Linked DNA regions of Homo sapiens: region 2 is linked to region 1. A link means that fine-mapping ties the variant in region 1 to the expression of a gene that starts in the linked region. Tissue or cell type: whole blood. Region 1 holds a variant in brackets; the other region holds the start of a gene. All regions are shown on one strand. Distances are between the middles of the regions.

What was found. PIP is the estimated chance that this variant, and not a neighbour inherited with it, causes the effect.
Region 2: VPS16 starts here. The variant in region 1 is fine-mapped to the expression of VPS16 in whole blood (TOPMed, PIP 0.98).

The regions. Positions count from the first base shown.
Region 1 is chr20:3,014,093-3,022,241 of GRCh38, reverse strand. PTPRA (protein tyrosine phosphatase receptor type A) reads right to left here. Exons shown (of 24, transcript NM_001385305.1): 12 at 6,357-6,393; 13 at 4,329-4,426; 14 at 814-933; 15 at 22-188. Among named protein-coding and RNA genes, the nearest start is that of GNRH2, 25 kb to the left of the region's middle. The variant A/C (reference allele first, on the strand shown) is at 4,035.
Region 2 is chr20:2,837,389-2,843,839 of GRCh38, reverse strand. VPS16 (VPS16 core subunit of CORVET and HOPS complexes) reads right to left here and starts at 3,095. Exons shown (of 24, transcript NM_022575.4): 1 at 3,013-3,095. The coding sequence starts at 3,065. It overlaps PCED1A (PC-esterase domain containing 1A), which reads left to right and starts at 3,185. Exons shown (of 8, transcript NM_022760.6): 1 at 3,185-3,629; 2 at 3,907-4,051; 3 at 4,569-4,648; 4 at 4,758-4,996; 5 at 5,094-5,244; 6 at 5,362-5,608. The coding sequence starts at 3,928. RefSeq lists enhancers at 2,287-2,818, 3,352-3,883, 5,360-5,659.

The DNA of each region.
Region 1 (8,149 bases):
CAAGGGTCAGGCCACACTGACCTGCAGTGGACCACGATGGCCCCTGCATACTGAGGGTTACAGGCCTTCACCTTCTTGAGGAACTTGAGCATGCCGATCGGGGTAAAAGGCACCCCAAAGTCTGGCCAGCTGGTAAAGTGGAACTGAGTGATGAGGCGCTGTGGCTTTCTGTTGGTCATGTCGCCCACCTGTGAAGTGAGGAGATCCTGTGTGTTGGCCCTGATACCCAAGGGTGGGCAGTACCAGGGGAGGGAAGGTGACAGCTGTGGTTGTCAGTGACAATGGAAAAGTAAGTGTACCCAGGGGAGTTAGTTAACCACAGACACAAGGTCTCACAACTAGTCAGTGGCAGGGTCAGAACTAAAATGCAGTGCTCCCAGCTAAGTCCTCTTTTCGCAGTACCACACTGCCCCTTGGCTGAAGGTGACCTTTGCTCAGGTCTCCAGGGTTGCCTGGAGGGCCAGGGGCAGGCCCATCACATCCTTGATGTCAGGAGTCTTTGGAGTAGGAAAGGAGGAGAAAGGTGAGTCAAGCACCTAGGAGACTGCACTGCCTCCCCATGCTCCCTTTCCACAGTGCTTGGTCATATCTAAATGATCAGACTTCATCTCAACAGGTAATTTTTCACCAGTCATGAAAATACTGCTCCTTTAGCTTTGACAGACAAGTTCCCCTGAGCCCGGATATCTGGTTTCAGAATTCACATACTGCATACTCAGCAACTCCTGACCACAGCGGGATGATCCAGCCTGTTCCCTCTTACTGGTCAGCAGATCCAACATAAGAACTGAGAAAGGACAGAGGAGACACTACCTGCTGGATGCAGAACTTCCGTACTGTGTAGTCCACCAGGACAGTCACATCCTCTACAGACACCCGAATATTCCCATAGGTCCAGCAGCCTTGGTCTGGCCAGTACTGGGCGCACTTGCACTGGAAAGAAAAAGACATACATTCCCTGACCTTAGACCTCCTGCCCATGGCAGATGCAAAGGGCCTGGAAGGAAGAGCCCACAAAGCCCAGATTAAAGTCCCCCAGAAGGCCCTTTGACCTCTTCTCTATCTCAGTCAGTTGCACACTTACTTATTCAAATTTGCCCTTTTCTCAAGTTCCTTAGCCGCCATCCTATTGAGCACAGTCTCCTAACTTACACACAGCCCTAGCCCCATACTTCTCAATGTTTCCCACCCACACTCCCTTGGTTCAGGGCGAATCTGAAGCCATCTTACCTACAAAATCTGCACTTTCACAACATTTCAGGTCATGCTCTAGGAGAAAGCCTGTTTGAACCCCTCGAACCAGCAGTCTGCTATGAGGGGGCCACCAGGGTAGACTGATGCAGACTGTAAACCTGCCATGAGAGGCCTAGAGCTTTTTCTGTTGCCTGAGCTTTGGATAGCTTCCAAGAGCAAGAGGTTTGGTTGGAGGAAACTAACCTAAAGCCCAGCCCTAGCACTGTCTTCCCATGCCACTGTGGAGCTGTTGATCATGACACCCGATACCCTAGGATCAAGGTGACTCAAGGGCCATCCTTGAGAAACACGGTAACAAATAGGTATTCCTCGCTGGGGCTCGACCCCAGGACCCAGAATTGGCTCTGGCTGTGGCCCAGTGATAGAGCTGGTTAGGCCAGGCATGCACTTGGTAGCCACAAAAGGAAAAGGCCCAGTTAGGAGGCTGCCTCCAGGATTAGGCCAAGGCCTCAAATTCCCTTTGGCTTGCAGGGTCTCAGTTCATAAAGCTCCCTCTGCTGATCCAGGATATACCAAAGGCCTCAGCAGGTGGGGCAGAAAACCAGGGAAATAAGGAACTAGAGAAACCAGGGGAAAAAAGCTCCTCTGTGGGCCGGGCGTGGTGGCTCACGCCTATAATCCCAGCACTTTGGGAGGCCGAGGTGGGTGGATCACGAGGTCAGGAGATCGAGACCATCCTGCCTAACACAGTGAAACCCCGTCTCTACTAAAAAAAACACAAAAAATTAGCTGGGCGTGGTGGCGGGTGGTACTCGGGAGGCTGAGGCAGAAGAATGGTGTGAACCCGGGAGGCGGAGCTTGCAGTGAGCCGAGATGGCACCACTGCCCTTCAGCCTGGGCGACAGAGCGAGACTCCGTCTCAAAAAACAAAACAAAACAGCTCTCCCTCTCCCTCTCCCCACGGTCTCCCTCTCCCTCTCTTTCCACGGTCTCCCTCCGATGCCGAGCCGAAGCTGGACGGTACTGCTGCCATCTCGGCTCACTGCAACCTCCCTGCCTGATTCTCCTGCCTCAGCCTGCCGAGTGCCTGCGATTGCAGGCGCGCGCCGCCACGCCTGACTGGTTTTCGTATTTTTTTGGTGGAGACGGGGTTTCGCTGTGTTGGCCGGGCTGGTCTCCAGCTCCTAACCGCAAGTGATCTGCCAGCCTCGGCCTCCCGAGGTGCCGGGATTGCAGACGGAGTCTCGTTCACTCAGTGCTCAATGGTGCCCAGGCTGGAGTGCAGTGGCGTGATCTTGGCTCGCTACAACCTCCACCTCCCAGCAGCCTGCTTTGGCCTCCCAAAGCGCCGAGATTGCAGCCTCTGCCCAGCCGCCACCCCGTCTGGGAAGTGAGGAGCGTCTCTGCCCGGCCGCCCATCGTCTGGGATGTGAGGAGCCCCTCTGCCTGGCTGCCCAGTCTGGAAAGTGAGGAGAGTCTCTGCCCGGCCGCCATCCCATCTAGGAAGTGAGGAGCGTCTCTGCCCGGCCGCCCATCGTCTGAGATGTGGGGAGCACCTCTGCCCTGCCGCCCCGTCCGGGATGTGAGGAGCATCTCTGCCTGGCCGCCCCGTCTGAGAAGTGAGGAGACCCTCTGCCTGGCAACCGCCCCGTCTGAGAAGTGAGGAGCCCCTCCGCCCAGCAGCCGCCCGGTCTGAGAAGTGAGGAGCCCCTCCGCCCAGCAGCCACCCCGTCTGGGAAGTGAGGAGCGTCTCTGCCCGGCAGCCACCTCGTCCGGGAGGGAGGTGGGGGGGTCAGCCCCCCGCCCGGCCAGCCGCCCCGTCCGGGAGGGAGGTGGGGGGGTCAGCCCCACGCCCGGCCGGCCGCCCCGTCCGGGAGGGAGGTTGGGGGATCAGCCCCCCGCCCGGCCAGCCGCCCCGTCCAGGAGGTGAGGGGCGCCTCTGCCCGGCCGCCCCTACTGGGAAGTGAGGAGCCCCTCTGCCCGGCCAGCCGCCCCGTCCGGGAGGTGGGGGGGTCAGCCCCCCCGCCCGGCCAGCTGCCCTGTCCGGGAGGGAGGTTGGGGGATCAGCCCCCTGCCCGGCCAGCCGCCCCGTCCGGGAGGTGAGGGGCGCCTCTGCCCGGCCGCCCCTACTGGGAAGTGAGGAGCCCCTCTGCCCGGCCAGCCACCCCGTCCGGGAGGGAGGTGGGGGGATCAGCCCCCCGCCCGGCCAGCCGCCCTGTCCGGGAGGTGAGGGGCGCCTCTGCCCGGCCGCCCCTACTGGGAAGTGAGGAGCCCCTCTGCCCGGCCACCACCCCGTCTGGGAGGTGTGCCCAGCAGCTCATTGAGAACGGGCCATGATGACAATGGCGGTTTTGTGGAATAGAAAGGGGGGAAAGGTGGGGAAAAGATTGAGAAATCGGATGGTTGCCGTGTCTGTGTGGAAAGAAGTAGACATGGGAGACTTTTCATTTTGTTCTATACTAAGAAAAAATCTTCTGCCTTGGGATCCTGTAGATCTGTGACCTTACCCCCAACCCTGTGCTCTCTGAAACATGTGCTGTATCCACTCAGGGTTGAATGGATTAAGGGCGGTGCAAGATGTGCTTTGTTAAACAGATGCTTGAAGGCAGCAGGCTCGTTAAGAGTCATCACCACTCCCTAATCTCAAGTACCCAGGGACACAAACACTGCAGAAGGCCGCAGGGTCCTCTGCCTAGGAAAACCAGAGACCTTTGTTCACTTGTTTATCTGCTGACCTTCCCTCCACTATTGTCCTGTGACCCTGCCAAATCCCCCTCTATGAGAAACACCCAAGAATGATCAATAAAAAAACAAAACAAAACAAAACAAAACAACAACAA[A/C]AAAAACCCCTCTGTGGCTTTTCCTTAGCTGATGGCCCAAGTCAGTCTCTTTCAGGCTGTTCTGGAACCAGGGTGAGTTGTTTGACTACCAAATACAGGGAATGTGCTCTAGGCACACACCTGAGGTTCATATCTGGGGCTTCCAGGCCATAGCAAAGTCTGATAGACTTCAGCCTGTGTCTTTCTGGATGAACTACTGGTACAGCACCCACAAAGGATAGACAGCCAGGCTTAAACTCAGAGCTTATATGCAGAGTGATCCTTCTGCTGTTCACATCCAATTTTTCCACTTACCTCCTTTCTCTCCTTCAGGTTGGTAACCATGACGATGGTGGCTGTGTTTTGTTCCCAGATCATCCGCCAGAAATCATTCACCGTTTCTTCTTTTGGTCCTAAAGTAGCCAACAGCAAAAATGAAGAGAATATACACCAAGAAGAAAGATGCTGGGAGGCTGGGAACATCCATTCCTGACTTTTGGAAGCTTGTGCCCAAATGTCCCCAGCTAAATATCTAACCCATGTATCCATCCACCCCGTTACTAATTGAGTATTTTCCATGTTTCTACCATGTATGTGCCAGGCACTGCACAAGGATGGGGCTGGGTGGAAGGCTGTCAAAAATATAAACAGAACACGAATGATGTCTCCCAAGGATATTACAGTTGGGAATTAGAAATCATGACTGCTCACAGAATACCTACATTATGGACCTGACAGTGAGCTAAGTGCTTCATATGGCATTTACTCCTTCCTATTATGCTCTGAGGTGGGTGTCATCAGCCCCAGAAAGGTTGGATGACTTGTTCAGGCTAGAATTCAAAATTTACCTCCCATATAACCTTTTTCGGAAAGTCACTAGAAAATTCTAAACAAAAATGAGAGGCAAACAGAGGAAAATAAATGAGATCCAACACAGCAGAGAGGCTAACGGAATTCCCAGGGTACTGGTCTTAGAATGATAACTCTGCCAGAGGATAGAGAGCAACCAATCCACAATGCAACTGAAGAAAGAAGATTCTAGAAGGATCCCAAGATAAAAAAATTAAACCTCATGTATCTAAAGGTACTGAGAGAAGATATATACTTCTGGTAAAGAGTTTGGGAGGAAAATCAGTAGTAGGTATATAAAAAACACAATGACTAAAAAAGAAGGGGGAAAAAAACTATACAAAAAATAACATAATACTGTGTGTTTCGGCTGTGAATATTTGTAAACTCATAATAATAATAAATACCTTAACCCCAAATTGTGATTTGACTCTTCTGGGAGAATGGGGAGGATATGTGGGTACACGTCTGTCTGACTGAGGGGGAGGTGCTCTGTAAGGGGATCAGATGATGTCATCTATCATAAGAAGCCAATAGATAAAAATGGTTGCCCCAGGGGCATTAGACTAAAAAAGTGAAAAGAAAAGGGAGGAGAACTTTGTTTTTATAAATCTTGTAGTCCCTAATGACTCTTTTTCTTGAGACAAAGTCTCACTCTGTCACCCAGGCTGGAGTACAGTAGTGCAATCTCAGCTCACTGCAACCTCTGGCTCCCGGGTTCATGTGATTCTTGTGCCTCAGCCTCCCAAGTAGCTGGGATCACAGGTGTGTGCCACCACGCCTGGCTAATTTTTAGTAGAGACGGGGTTTCACTATGTTGCCCAGGCTGATCTTGAACTCCTGGGCTCAAACGATCCTCCTGTCTTGGCCTCCCAAAGTGTTAGGATTACAGGCATGAGCCACCCTGCCCGGCCTCAATTACTTTTTAATGCTGCAAACATCCAGATATTTTTGCTAGGGTTCAAAGAGTGAAGACAGTTGTTAGAACAGCAGGCCTGGAAATGTGTGTAGAACACATAAAGGACATGGTGCTGGGTCCCTGATCTGAGGGTTCCTAGACCAACTATCTGTGAATAATGGTGAGGCTCAGGCCCATGAGCTGGGGGAGAACCAGCCTGGACCCTGTGAGGTGGCTGATCCTCTCTGGAAACTGATTCCTAATTCAAACTCTGAGCAGCCTGGCTGGAACCTAAGGTTAACTAGCCCCAAGGACAGAGGGCCTTATTAGACTGTGTTTTGTGTATACAGCCTTTTCCAGTCTTTTTAATATACATACACAAAAAGACTTCTTTTAATGGATCCCTGGATACTAAGTCATCAAGATGAAGGCTGTTAGCTGTAAACCTGTATAATGGATTATAATTCTTTCAGGTGGTAAAAAGTACAGAAAAGCTACAGCATTCTGGTTAATCCACTCAGCATTTGGGAGAAAAAAACCAAACCCATTATGTGATCATGGTTAAATCTAACAGAAAAAAGTTGTCATTACTTTACCTTGTGCAGCAATGAATTTGTTCTTTTCTTGGTAGCCCTGGGGTGTGGGGAAGGAAAGAAAAAGAAAGAGAAAACCAAAAATGAATAGAAATGAAATTCTCCAGTCTGACTCCAACCAGTTAACAAAACCTGAAAATGTGCAGGTACTTAACGGGGATTTCCAGTCTAGATATTCACAAGGGATTAGCTTTAGAGCTAGGAATTAGAGATTACAAAACTCAAATAGTCTAGGTAGTCTTCTCAAATTGAATTATTAATAAATACTAGAATAAGAAATCCAGGCCAGGCGTGGTAGCTCACACCTGTAATCCCAGAACTTTGAGAGGCCAAGGTGGGCGGATCATCTAAGGTCAAGAGTGTGAGAGCATGGGGCCAACATGGTGAAACCCCATCTCTACTAAAATACAAAAATTAGCCGGGCGTGGTGGTGCACTCCTGTAATTCCAGCTACTAGGGTGGCTAAGGCAAGAGAATTGCTTGAACCTGGGAGGTGGAGGTTGCACTGAGCCAAGCCAAGATTGCGCCACTGCACTCCAGCCTTGGTGACAGAGCAAGACTCCATCTCCAAAAAAAAAAAAAAAAGAAAAAGAAAGAAAGAAAAAAGAAATCCAAATACTGACTCCCAGATTAGACCATGTTTCTGATGCTTTATCAGCAGCTAACAATGTAGATTTCAGTGTTAACAGGTTAAGAACCCACCAGGGGAAAAGCATATGTGGTGGTTCCAGGGATGAAGCTGGGTTCACTCTGGGAAAGAAAACAGGTTATTTTCTCAAGGATGCTTTACCCAGGTGCAAAATCTTTCTGGGAATAGCCTGTGAGTGTGGTGAAGTAGCTCCCAGTGTTTAACAAGAGGCTTCTCTATCACAGGCAGTGGGGGACAAGAGCAAGGGAGCCTGGGGTGCCACTCAACAGATAAGGAGCCTCGGAAAAACTAACAACTGGCCGCAGCTTTCTTTTTCAGTCTTTATTGCTCCAGTTATACATCTTTTCAACGTCATTGTTTAAATGTATGTTCAATTCAGAAGTTCTAGGTAAGAGAAAGCCACTTGATTTAAGGATTGTGAATCACCCATTTCCTTTCTCAGACAGCAATAAGGTGAGTAACAAGGGAGGCAGCTTCAGGGATGGGACACCATGTCACACCAACACCAGGGTGGCAATGTGAACTACAAGGCTGCAAGGCAGTGGCCAAATATAAGAAGTGGCCTAAATCTGAGGAGCCACTTTCTTTTTTTTTTTGAGACGGAGTCTTGCTCTGTCACCCAGGCTGGAGTGCAGTGGTGCGATCTTGGCTCACGGCAACCTTCTGCTCCCGGGTTCAAGTGATTCTCCTGCCTCAGCTTCCCAAGGAGCTGGGATCACAAGCATGAGCCATCACGGCCGGCTAATTTTTGTATTTTTACAAAAATTAGAGATGGGGTTTCACCATGTTGGCCACGCTGCTCTCGAATTCCTGAACTCAGATGATCCGCCCACCTTGGCCTCCCAAAGTACTGGGATTACAGGTGTGAGCCACCGTGCCTGGTCTGAGGAGCCACTTTCAATTTCAGTTCAAACAAGGGCAGGGCAGGGTTGCTGCCCAACACAGAAGGAGAAAGCTTTAGGCCTCAGAGATGGATATGTTTAGTCAGCAACAAAAGACTTGTTAAAGTTTTCATTGAGAAGAGCAATTTAAGTTTCAACAAATGTTTTTATTTATTAGAGAATGGAAATGGAAATAGCCTTAATTCTGGATGTTAAATTCTGCTTATATTACTAAACTTATAATTAAAACTGAGAAGTCCTTAAGA
Region 2 (6,451 bases), 180 kb after region 1:
CACAGGTAAGAGTAGATTAATCATTCAGATTGTGTCTGTGGCATGCACCCAACACATACATTCTTTTAAAACCTTATTAACATGTCAACAAAGCAAAGACTACATCTGACAAATAAGAGCTCTGTGGTAATGAGGTCAATGTCTGCAGTACTCTTTGATTTAATAAGCCTGGGTAGGCAACAGGTATCTTCAAAATAATACAAGTAAAGTTGATATTTTAAAAGTGAATGTTGTATCAACTAGCTGGTGTGTAAATACTAAATGACATGGCTACCTTGGTCAGCTGAAATTCCTTCTCCACAGAAACAAGTTGAAATCATTTCCTACTGCATTTATGGATTTTTAATGAAGTTTTTGCAATTTTTTCATACTGCACAGGCATATTTCTTTTCTTTTTTTTTTTTCCCCAAGATGGAGTCTTGCTCTGTTGCCCAGGCTGGAGTACAGTGGTGCGATCTTGGCTCACCGCAACCTCCGCCTCCCAGGTTCAAGCAATTCTCCTGCCTCAGCTTCCCGAGTAGCTGGGATTATAGGTGTGTGCCACCACGCCCGGCAAATTTTTGTATTTCTAGTAGAGACGGGGTTTCATCATGTTGGCCAGGCTGATCTCGAACTCTTGACCTCGTGATCTGCCTGCCTCAGCCTCCCAAAGTGCTGGGATTACAGGCGTGAGCCACCACGCTCGGCCAATTGCACAGGCATATTTCTAAGAGAGAATTATAAATAAACAACAAATGCAACAGGTCTCTAAAAACTGCCACAGGGCACTTGTCCATCTAGGAAGTATATCACATTAGGTACCAAAAATTACATTTAAAAGTTTTAATATGTCAGTGAGAATGGTATACAGTTTCATTAGCACAAACAAATGTCTTCTATTTAAGTAAGACCCCCATGCAATGTCTTTGTGATCTTTACTTGCAATCCATAACATATATCTATCTATCTATCGATAGATACATCTATCTATCTATCGATAGATACATCTATCTATCGATAGATACATCTATATGTCTATCTATAGATAGATACATCTATATGTCTATCTATAGATAGATACATCTATATGTCTATCTATAGATAGATACATCTATATGTATCTATAGATAGATACATCCATATGTCTATCTATATATAGATACATCTAGATGTATCTATATATATATAGATACATCTATATATCTATCTATATCTATCTATCTATAGATAGATATAGATAGATATATCTATATATAGACGGAGTCTCACTCTGTTGCCTGGACTAGAATGCAATGACGCTATCTTGGCTCACTGCAACCTCCGCCTCCCAGGTTCAAGCGATTCTCCTGCCTCAGCCTCCCAAGTAGCTGGGATTACAAGCACCTGCCATTATGCCTGGCTAATTTTTGTAGAGACAGGGTTTGACCATGTTGGTTAGGCTGGTCTCAAACTCCTGGCCTCAGGTGATTCACCCACCTTGGCCTCCCAAAGTGCTGGGATTACAGGCATGAGCCACTGCGCCTGGCCTAAAATAATATTTTTAATTTTTCAGAGGGAGTATGCTATGTTGCCCAGGCTGGAGTGCAGTGGTTATTCACAGGTTCTAACATCGGTCCCTACACCCTCAAACTTCTGGGCTCCAGTGATCCTCCTAACTCAGCCTCTCCAGTACCTGGGACTATAGGAACATGCCACAAAGCTCGGCCCAGTAAAATATTTTTAAAAAACTTTAATGGGCAATTATTACATAGCAAGCACTGTTCTAAATATGCACTGGTGATAAAGAGAAGCAAGAAACATGCTTTTGGCCGGGCTCAGTGGTTCACGCCTGTAATCCCAGTACTTTGGGAGGCCAAGGTGGATAGATTGCTTAAGGTCAGAAGTTCAAGACCAGCCTGGCCACCATGGTGAAACCTCACCTCTAGCAAAAAATACAAAAATTAGCCGGGCGTGGTGACAGGGGCCTGCAGTCTCAGCCACTCGGGAGGCTGAGGCAGGAGAATCCCTTGAACCCGGGAGGCGGAGGTTGCAGTGAGCCGAGTGCCCCTGCACTCCAGCCTGGGCAACAGAGGAAGACTCTGTCAAAAAAAAAAAAAATGCTTTCAGCCCTGAAGGAGCCTGGTTTAGCAGAAGAAACCTATACAAATGTCGCCTAAATATACAAATAGACCATACCTAAAAGACCCTAGCACTGGGCCCAGTGAGGCCCACAGGATTCTATTGGGGGAGAATCAGGCACAGTTCCAGAAAGAACCCTTGAACTACTAAGTCCTGAAGGATGCGCAAAATTCTTCAGTGAGATAAAGAGAGAAATGGCAGTATCCACAGAAACTGCAGACTGGTTAGGGCCTTGTAATTCTGCGCAGCTGGAACGCAAGATTTGGGTAGGAGAGCGGTAGATGAGGTTGGAGAGACAAACGGGCTGCCTTACAGATAGACGTTCCACGAGAAGTTCGTAGTTTTTCCTATTAGGGAAGCTATGGGAAAATCCTAATCTGGGTAACGATGTAACGGGTTTACACTTTAGAAAAATCCGTGGTTTAGGACTCTACAACTCCCATGGGCGGGCTGCCCTAACCCAGGGGTTCCCACTTCCGCTGTTCCGGGATTCACGGACGACTCGCCCCCTTTTCCCAGCCTTGGTCAGCACTGTTACCCCGCCCGCCGTGCGATCCCGCCCCCCTCGGAGCGCCCCTGTGGTCTGACTTCAGCAGCACTTTCCGGCAGGAGACTGGGCACTCGCTGTCACCCGCGAGCTGCCTCCCTCAGCGAGATCTGAGCATCTTTCCGGAGGCTAACAGACCTGGGCTTCGGGGTGACCACTGTGCTTGCCTCAGTTTCCTTTTCTGGAGCAGGGGAAGGCCCGGCTCCCTGCCCAAAGGCGGCTGTGCGCTAAGTGGCAGACGCTCGGGGAGAGCCGGCGCGGGGCGGACCCCAGCGCCAGTAGTGACAGGGGCGAACGCCGCCGGGAGACTCCAGCCGGCGGGCGAGCAGGGTAAGCCAGGCCGTGGGCGGGAGGGCGGGGCAGCTCACCGGTAAAAGGCAGAGTCCCCGAGTGGGTTCCAGTTCGCCGTGTAGCAGTCCATGGCTGGTGCAGACGGCAGCTGGGAAGCACCGAGGGGACACCCACCTAGAGCGGGCTCCAGGCCGGCACTTCCGCTTCCGCCCGTCCGGGTCACGTGGCGAGGCCGCCGCCGCGGCCATCACCACTGTGGGCAGCCTCACTTGGCTGCCGCCCCGAGACCCCAGCCCGTACCTGGGCTTCGCGCCCGCCAAGTGGGCCCAGCCCTGGCTCCTGCGCCCTGTGGCGGCCACCTCCATCGCCTTGCTTTCCCTTCGGGCACTGGGGGTCGCTCAGGGCGGGACATGGGTGAACGGAAGTGGAAGCTGTGAGCGTCGCAGCCCGAGGCGCCGAGGCCTGAGGCGCCGTCGGGGCCACAGCGACGCTCGCATGGAGAGCGCTGGGCGCTGGGCTGTGCACCGACGGCTAACCTGGACCCACGGTCTCTGCGGGGCGGGAGCTTTGCAGAACCGACTGGCCGACTGGGGCGCGGGAACATGAGGCTTGGCTAGGAGCCCGCTGCGGGCCAGGCGCGCGGTGCGCAGGCATACCCGGGTCGCGGGTGAACACCGCGGAGCCCCGGGACTTGGTAATTGGCGCGAGCGGGTGCGCGCATGCGCGGGACGGCGGCGGGCACGTGGCGAGGCGCAGGGCGGCGCCGCGCGGGAAGCTCCCCAGTGCCCTGGAGGCCTGCTGGCTGGACGACCCCCTGCCTCTGGTACCAAGTGTGACCAAGGCTGGCGCCACCATGGCTCTGCTGCCGTCACCTCCTCCCTTTAGCATTGAGCAGCCCCGGAGGGGCTAGCCCTGAGGCTGACCTGCCCAGAGTCCCCACCATCGCGCTGCTTAGTGGCCTCTCCCTGCAGCCTGTCGTTGCTGGTGGCGGCATGGTCTTCTGTCTGTCGAGCGAGGAGCCGCGCCGCCCGCTGCGAAGCGACATGGTCCACTTCCAGGCCTCGGAAGTCCAGCAGCTGCTACACAACAAGTTCGTGGTCATCTTGGGGGACTCCAGTGAGTGCCTCTTCTAGGGTGACGCTTCCAGTCCCACACCTTGCAGCCCGTTCAGTGTGTCTGGACCATTTGTTTCCATCTCACATCTCTTGTCTGTCTTCTGGTCTGTTCCGTCCAGTAGGTTTTCTCTTTTTATGTCCCACACATCTTCCACAGGAGTCCTGACAGGTGTAATAACCTGTGCACTTTTTAGCCCATCCTTGCTCAGCATTTCTCGCCCTGACAGCTCCCCATAATTTCCATCACGAAAGCGTTGCATTGTGTAGTGTGTCTCCTGGGTGACTTGGCCGACTTAATTTCTGCCAGGTGATCTTGGGTCACTGTATACTGCTGGCCAGGAGGCACACAGAACAGAGGCAATGCCAGGACTTTTTAACCTCATCTTTTCTCCTGCGTCTAAGTCAACCACAGAGCTGGTGTCGGGCACCTCAGCCCTGGGAAAATGGGGTCCTGGACTTGGAAGGAGCTGGGGCAGGCTGAGGTCTGCCTCAGCCTTGGGATCTCTGTCTCCTCCCAGTTCAGAGGGCTGTGTACAAGGACCTGGTGCTCTTGCTCCAGAAAGACTCACTGCTCACAGCTGCCCAGCTGAAAGCCAAGGTGAGGGAAGCTTGGTGGCCATGTCAGTGGTGGGTGGGCACAGACCCTGGCCTGGCAGGGTTCTCCTCCCTGGCATGGGTCTGACCAGTAGGGTGGGGGGGGTGGGTAGGGGGAGCTGAGCTTTGAACAGGACCAGCTGGTGGCTGGGGGCCAGCTGGGCGAGCTGCACAACGGGACACAGTATCGTGAGGTCCGCCAGTTCTGCTCGGGCTCTGGCCACCACCTTGTGCGCTTCTACTTCCTCACTCGTGTTTACTCCGAGTACCTTGAGGATGTTCTGGAAGAGCTGACATATGGACCTGCCCCGGACCTGGTGATCATCAACTCCTGCCTCTGGGATCTCTCCAGGTTGGGGCGAGGGAAAGGGGAATACTGGTTGGGGCTGGAAGTACGGCTGAGGCAGTCCACCCTTGTGCTCTTGCCCACCCTGTGTGTTATCCAACAGATATGGTCGCTGCTCAATGGAGAGCTACCGGGAGAACCTGGAGCGGGTGTTTGTGCGCATGGACCAAGTATTGCCAGACTCCTGCCTGCTGGTGTGGAACATGGCGATGCCCCTCGGGGAACGTATCACTGGGGGTTTCCTCCTGCCAGAGGCAAGTGACTGAGGCCCATCAGGACAAGAGATGGGATAGCAGACTGGTAGATAGGACACCCTGCTTTCAGACCCTGCTGCGTTCTGTGGCTCTTAGAGGCTGCACTTTCTCACTTAGCTCCAGCCCCTGGCAGGCTCCCTGCGGCGGGATGTGGTTGAAGGGAACTTCTACAGTGCTACGCTGGCCGGGGACCACTGCTTTGATGTCCTAGACCTCCACTTTCACTTCCGGCATGCAGTACAGCACCGTCATCGGGATGGTGTCCACTGGGACCAGCATGCACACCGCCACCTCTCACACCTGCTTCTGACCCATGTGGCTGACGCCTGGGGCGTGGAGCTGCCCAAGCGTGGCTATCCCCCTGGTGAGCCCTACCATAAGTGGGGGGGTAGTGATGCACTGGGGCCCTCAGAGGACAGGGCTCAGAAACAGAATGGGACACAGCCACTCAAGGGAAGTAGAGGTCCCTTGAAGGACTCCTGTGGCTTCTGCATGCACCTTCCTCAACCCCTGAGGAGGGTTAGATCATCGGAGCAATATTCTTGTCCAAGTTCCAGTTTTCTACAGTCTGGCTGTGTAGTCATTTCTGTGTGCTTGAAGGAGCTTGTACAAGTATTGACCACATAAGGCAGCATGTTGCAAGGGTCCTACCCAACAGATTAACAGGAAAGAAATGGGGCATGGGTGTGAGGAGTGGAAAGACAGGGAGGAAGGGCCATCCAGGCAGTGTGGCAGAAGCAAAGAAGCCCACAGCTGGGGGGTGGGGGTACAGTCAACTGGCAGGGTGTGGAACAGGGATGTTGCATCGGGAAGGCCAGCCTTATGGACTTGGGCTCAATGGACAGTGTTCCATAGGCTTCTTAGTTCAGCCTCAGAGTCCCACTGTGACTGGTGCAGCTTGGTGTAGCTCTCCTCGGGCCCCATCTCTGGGCCTTTGGTGGAGGCTTCTGAGGGCCCCACTCCCCCTTGTTTTGAGGCACTGCTCCCCATCACATCTCAACTGTAACACTCTGCTGCAGAACCTCTGTTTCCATGTCAACACCCTAGTCCCTGCATGCACACAAAGAGGGCACCATGGCTGATTGTCTCCATGGCTGCTTCTCCCCTGCATCGTGTCCTTAAAGGGCAAGTTTCCTGCTGCACTTGTTGACGACTCACCCCTTTCAGCCCCAGTGTCTAGCACAATTTCCCTGTACACAGTATCAAC